Linked DNA regions of Homo sapiens. The protein of the gene in region 1 purifies or fractionates together with the protein of each later gene. This does not show direct contact. Each region holds a gene or a part of one and is shown on either strand. Other genes may lie near its edges.

What was found. Proteins that work in one complex are often made in the same cells at the same time.
Region 2: the proteins of NUP37 (region 1) and NUP85 purify together in Homo sapiens (affinity purification with western blotting; 4 studies listed by BioGRID and IntAct, with this or other methods). This does not show direct contact.

The regions. Positions count from the first base shown.
Region 1 is NC_000012.12:102,075,115-102,078,614, forward strand, and holds part of NUP37 (nucleoporin Nup37), read right to left. Parts: intron 2,390-3,500; coding exon 2,208-2,389; intron 1,734-2,207; coding exon 1,683-1,733; intron 1-1,682. UniProt on the Homo sapiens protein: Component of the Nup107-160 subcomplex of the nuclear pore complex (NPC). The Nup107-160 subcomplex is required for the assembly of a functional NPC.
Region 2 is NC_000017.11:75,215,679-75,219,178, reverse strand, and holds part of NUP85 (nuclear pore complex protein Nup85), read right to left. Parts: intron 3,426-3,500; coding exon 3,356-3,425; intron 995-3,355; coding exon 873-994; intron 1-872. UniProt on the Homo sapiens protein: Essential component of the nuclear pore complex (NPC) that seems to be required for NPC assembly and maintenance. As part of the NPC Nup107-160 subcomplex plays a role in RNA export and in tethering NUP96/Nup98 and NUP153 to the nucleus.

The DNA of each region.
Region 1 (3,500 bases):
AAATTAAGTATCGTATCCTATGGATAATGACAAGCTTTTCTGAAGCGGGCTTTTTCTTTTTCTTTTTCTTTTTTTTTAAGAGACAGGGTCTTGCTCTGTCACCCAGGCTGGAGTGCAGAAGTGCTAACAAAACTCACTGTAGCCTCAAATTCCTGGGCTCAAGTGATCTTCCCACCTCAGCCTCCCTAGTAGCTGGGACTACAGGTGTGTACTACGATGCCCAGGTAAGTTTTAATTTTTTGTTTTTTGTAGGAATGGGGTCTTGCTATCTTGCCCAGGCAGGTCTCAAACTCCTGGCCTCAAGTGATCCTCCTGCCTTGGTCTCCTGAAGTGCTGGGATTATAGGTATGAGCCATAGCACCTAGACAGAAACAGGTTTCTTTTTGTATAAAACCAGTGATTTTAATAATCCTAAATTTGTTAATATGTCTTTACAATTAGACCGGGAATTCCAGGAAAATATTCCATAAATATTTTCTCATACTTTAAGTTTTATGAAGTGCTTATTTTGTGTCATTTCATTAAGTTCCAAAGTTACACAAGGTTGATACAATCCTTTTTTTCACAACCAAAGGGGTAATAGTGTGGTAGAAGAAACAAATAAGGCATCAAATATGACAGCCATTCTGCCCCTTTTCCATGCTAAGTGAAGCCTAACTTTGTTCAGGGCACAGTGTGTCCTACCCTAGGGGATGAGACATAATTAGTTTAAGGCAGTCATAGCAATCTCCCATAAAAGGAGAGGGTTCCTTCTTCTCCTCTTACTTTTTTTTTTTTGTTTAATTGTTCGGCAAATGGAGTACTTCTCTTATGCCTGGAACTCTCACAGCCATCTTGTAACTATGAAGCAACAAGTCCCAATCCTTGACACTGAGAATAGCAGAGGGAAAGGATGAAAAGGGTCTGAGCTCTTGATGACATTGATGAGCTGCTCAACAAGCCCTGAGACTACCTCCTCTAGACTTATAAGTACCATAGCTCATTGATTTTAAAATTGATGGATACTTGCTCATTGGTGTATATTTGTTCACACATCTCTGAAGTCAGGATGTATCTTAACGATCCATGGCATTCTTACATTTAGTCGAATGTATTTTATTCTTAATAATGGTATCCCTAAGTTCTACAACTTATTGGAATATAGCATATAATAAAATTTCACTGGTTTTAGTCTCTTATTTGGTTTTGCTGTTACTTAAAAAGCAGAAATAATGGCTTAAGGACCACACTATACAATGGAGTATTATGAAAAAGAACAAGGTAGACATGTATGTTAATTTAAGTGAAAAGCAAAAACATGTCGCAGAGATATACTATCTAGCATAGTTTCATTTAACACATAATAATAAAGTTTATATACATGAACATGGGCTCCCCTACATTTACATCCTTAACAGCACAGAACAATCAGGAAGCATAATATATTCCAAATTGTAGGGGTGGTAGTGGTGGAGTGGTTACATGTTTTTCTGTGTAAAGAAAATATTTGGAAAACAAATCAACTCCTTGTCTAGACCAAAAGACAAAGGCAATGACTTAGTCGGGAAAGTAAAATAACCACTTATAAAACAATAAGGGAAAAAAAAAATCCAGTGCAAAGAAGAGAACTACAAAAGTATCCCAGTGGTGGCACAGCAACGTCAAAAGATCAAATCACAGCTCCAACAAAAACGGTACATTACCTGAATAAGCAGGCTCGATCCATGTGAACAGGTCTCTTATTTTGAGGATAACTAAAAGATAATATTTTGCATTTTATGAATTATGTGTTAAACTCAAGTGGGTGAACTTAAGGTTTAAACAGTATTTTCTCTTTATAGGACAGAATGTCCAATGTGTTTAAACTATAATAAATCCTAAACAAGCAATCAGTTAAAACAGATGAAATACAATAAAGACATGACTTAGAACCACTGCAGGGAACCATCATGCAACAGGGTCAGTGTTTTTCTTATTTTCCAATATAAGTCAACATTGCACAGATCCAAGATTTCCTCTTTTGCACTGTCCTTTCTGGGTTACTCCCAGAGTAAATCTGCATAGCAAGTTTATGTTATATAAAAATCCATAGCTCTGGCCTTCTATAGGAAAGACTTGCTTTCGCTTGACAGCATAGTCTCAGGTATAACAGGATGGATGAGTGGATCATTTAGCAACAGTTACTGCCTTTTTTTGGTGTGTAATAGACAAACATATCAAGAAAGTACCTGGACCGAGTAATATCCCAAATTAACCAATCATTTCCTGCAACGGCTCCAACTTTGAAGGTGTTTTTTAAGCACCAGTGTGCTGACATTAATGGCACTTGTTCTGATTCAAGAGATAAAATAGCCTGTTGGGCCAAAAGATCATAAAACCGGATTGTTCCATTCTTCTCTGCAACCATTAGCTGTAAGACAGAAAAATAAAAAGAAACTCAATCACTTATCTCACTAACTATACCTGAAGTGTAAGCAGAGATTCACTGTTGTACGGTAAAATGTAAACATTTGCAATATACAGGTTCAGCATTCCTCATCTGAAAATCTGCAATGCTCCAAAAACTAAAACTTTTTGAGTGCTAACATGATACCACAAGTGAAAAATTCCACATATAAGCACTTAACACAAACTTTGTTTCATGCACAAAATTATTAAAAAAAGTTATATAAAATTATCATCAGGTCATGTGTATAAGGTATACATGAAACATAAATGAATTTCATGTTTAGACTTGGGTCCCATTCCCAAGGTATCTCATGTATATGCAAATATTACAAAATGCAAAAAATTCCAAAATCTGAAACCCTTCTAGTTCCAAGAATGTCAGATAAGGATCCTCAACCTATATTACAAATGGAAGATCAAATGTAAAGGAAGAGGCTATGTAAAAATCTCTAGAGAATATAAAAAACCTTAGAGAAAACTGGCAAGATAAACAATTCAAGATTTGGCCGGGTGTGGTGGCTCACGCTTGTAATCCCAGCACTTTGGGAGGCTGAGGCGGGCAGATCACTTGAGGTCAGGAGTTCGAGATCAGCCTGGCCAACATGGTGAAACCCCGTCTCTACTAAAAAAAAAAAAAAAATTAGCCGGTTGTGGTGGCATGCGCGTAATCCTAGCTACTCGGGAGGCTGAGGCAGAACTGCTTGAATCCGAGAGGCAGAGGTTGCAGTGAGCCAAGATTGTGCCACGGCACTCTAGCCGGGGCAACAAGAGCGAAATTCCTTCTTTAAAAAAAAAAAAAAGATTTTGAGATTTGGTAGAATTTTAAGTGATGATGTGCCGTCACTAAGAAGAAGAGATCAATTTAACAATTCCTTCTGGGAAAAGTTACTTTTAAGTTATGTTAGTTATATTGTCTAGAAAGAATAGCTAAGTATGTATCTCTCAAGAGAGACAGACATTTATGTGTTACACATACTTATGCAACTGAAGTTTGTTTCTAGAATGGAAGGCAGGGCAGCATAGTTAAAGAGCACAGACACGCCGCTTCCTTCACTTATAAGCTGAGTGACTGC
Region 2 (3,500 bases), on another chromosome or scaffold:
TTGTCCTCACAATCTGTTCCCAATTTCAGGCTTTATAAGTTTAGTTGACTTTCCATTAGCCCAGTCAACTAGCGATCTCCTCCCTGCCACCTCCCAATTGGGTCAGTCAGCAGAGGTGAATGGAAATACCTAACACATAGAAAATACATCCATATACACATATACGACATGCTGACTTCGAAACTGATGATCCAAAGTAATGTGCAAGCTCATTTACATCCAACCCTGTATGCACCCCAGCCCCTGTCAATTGGTTTTATATCATTACCCAGGCATGGTGGTTGGCACTTGTGGTCCCAGCTACTTGAGAGGCTGAGGTGGTAGGACCGCACAGGAGGCGGAGGTTGCAGTGAGCAAGATCAGGCCACTGCACAACAGCCTGGGGAACAGAGTCGGACTATCTTTTCTCTTTTATATTTTTATTTATTAATTTGTTTTGAGATGGAGGGTCTCACTTTGTTGCCCAGGCTAATCTCAAACTCCTGGGCTCAAGAGATTCCTGACTTGGCCTCCCAAAGTGCTGGCTGGAATTACAGGCATGAGCCACCGCACCCAGCCGAGACCCTGTCTCAAAAAAAAAAAAAAAAAAACGGTTTTGTATTCCTTTTTGTGTCTTCTCTTCCTTAGATCCACAAAGAAATCAAATTTCCTTTTACCCTGGAAAAGTCTTCAAAGCATTATTTTTCTTACATGGTACCTCGGTTTTAGACTCTCCCATAGAGCAGGGAAGAAAAGATCCAAAAGAGTCTCCATAGTAACAGACTCCAAAAGCCAGCCTACTGCTGGAGGCTCAGTGGGTGTCCTCAGACCCACCCGGCAGCACCAGGGACAGTAGGACACATGGTGGGAGGTGGGGGCCCGGCCTGTCTTACCAAGTTCCAGAAGCTGTCATGTTTGCTTGGATTCTCACTGCCCAGAACATCTGCCGACAAACTGTCCACCTCGCACACATGGAGCCGGACCCAGTCAAGGAGATGGAGGAGGAGAGGGCCAGCTGGGAGGAGAGACTCTCATCACACACAAAAGCCTCAGCTTCATCTGCAGCAAGTTCCTTTATCCAAGGAACAGAGAACTTTAAGGCAGACAAGCTGACTACATAGGTTTATCCCTTTTAAGCAGTCACACACATGGTCCTGAATGACAGACTGTGCTAGGAAAAAGCAAATGCACTTTCACCAAATATTACTTCTGTGCCAGGCAGCTCCATCTTTAACTGACCCCAGAAAGGGGTGAACATGGAATGCAGACCTCACTACCCCACACTCCAGATTCTTCACAAATACTTAATAGCTACATAAGTAATGGCCGTTTAGGAACCAACAATGACTAGATAGCAAGCAGCCAGGTATGCAATGATGATAAAAACATAGGGCCAGGGGGCTGGTGGTGCACACCTGGAATCCCAGCACTTTCGGAGGCTAAGGCAGGTGGATCATCTAAGCTCAGGAGTTCAAGACCAGCCTGGACAACATGGTGAAACCCTGTCTCTACTAAAAATACAAAAATTAGCCGGGCGTGGTGGCGCATGCCTGTAATTCCAGCTACTCAGGTGGCTAAGGCAGAATTGCTTGAACCCAGGAGGCAGAGGTTGCAGTGAGCCAAGATCGCACAACTGCACTCCAGCCTGGGTGACGGAGTGAGACTCTGTCTCAAAAAACAAAACAAAACAAAACATATGGCCGGGCATGGTAGTTCATGTCTGTAATCCCAGCACTTTGGGAGGCTGAGGCAGGCAGATCGCTTGAGCCCAGGAGTTTGACACTAGGCTGGGCAACATAGGGAGACCCCATCTCTACAAAAAAAAATAAAAAATTAGCCGAGCCAGGAATGGTGGCTCACGCCTATAATCCCAGCATTTTGCGAGGCCAAGATGGGCAGACTGCTTGAGCCCAAGAGTTCAAGAACAGCCCGGGCAACATAGCGAAATTTCCTCTCCACAAAAAATACAAAAATTAGCCGGGCGTGGTGGTGCAGGCCTGTGGTCCCAGCTACTTGGGAGGCTGGGCAGGAGGATTGCTTGAGCCCAGGAAGTCGAGGCTTCTGAGCTGTGATCACGCCACTGTACTCCAGCATGGGTGACAGAGCAAGACCCTGTCTCCCCTCCCCCAGCATATACACACAAAAAATTAGCCTAGCATGGTGGCACGTGCCTGTAGTCCCAGCTACTCAGGAGGCTGAGACAGGAGGATCGCTTGAGCCTGGGAGGTCCAGACTGCAATAGCTGTGATTGTACCACCACACTCCAGCCTAAGTGACAGAGTGAGAACTTGTCTCAATCAATCAATAAAAATAAAATGAAATAAAATGGCAGAGTACAGCCAGCACTCCGTATCCATGATGTAGAACCTGCAGATACAAAGAGCCAACTGTAACCTCCTCAAAAATCCACTGGAGAAGGGAGGCCTCTGAACAACCAACTCTAATTTCAAGTTCCTCACTTCTTTAGTGAGAGTATGAATAAAATGCTAGGGCTACACAGAGGTTACTACTCATTTATGGAAAATAGCAAACATAAATCCTTAAAAGAAATGCAAAAAAGCTGCAGCAGATCCACAGAGAGCTCATACAGGCCATGACACTATACTGACCACAGTTTAATTCAAGATCAACAGAAGGCTGGGCACGGTGGCTCACACCTGGAATCCCTGCACTTTGGGAGACCGAGGCAGGCAGATTACCTGAGGTTGGGAGTTCGAGACCAGCCTGACCAACATGGAGAAACCTCATCTCCACTAAAAATACAAAATTAGCCAGGCGTGGCAGCGCATGTCTGTAATCCCAGCTACTCAGGAGGTTGAGGCAGGAGAATCGCTTGAACCCAGGAGGTGGAGGTTGCGGTGAGCTGAGATCACGCCATTGCACTCCAGCCTGGGCAACAAGAGTGAAACTCTGTCTCAAAAAAAAAAAAAGATCAACAGAAAAATTCCCATTGGCAGAGTTCATACCCATTGGCAGAGTTAACACACAGAGTTGCCCTGTCCCAATGATTCATGACAGAATTCCCAATGTGACTTTGCCTCTCACCACCTAATCCTACCCCACATTCATAAAACTTTCTTAAGCTTGGCCAGTCCATGATGTTAACACTGACACCCCCTTTCACACACTAGTTTAATATTTCTCAGTACTTGTCAGGGTTTAGGTTTCTTGGAGGCACTCTGCATGATTCTTTTTGCAGCACCTGACAAAACGGTCAGGTTTCTTTGGGTGTTTTCTAACGACTTCCCGTGGTTATAATGATGGAAAGAACATTCTCAGGAATAAAACACTCATCACCATGCACAGGAAAGATGAGGAAAGAGCAGAAGATGGAAGGGGACACCTATGAGATTATGGTGAGATATTCCATGCCTACCTGGGGCCACTTCAATAAAAAGAATCTCACACAGGTTCCAGATGAGCTCCATTGCTGACAAAATGGAGACCTAAGGAAGAAATGGGGACAGGTTTCACCTGAAATGATTCCTGAGCTTTGCTCTCAGAGCCAAGGGATAAAGCAG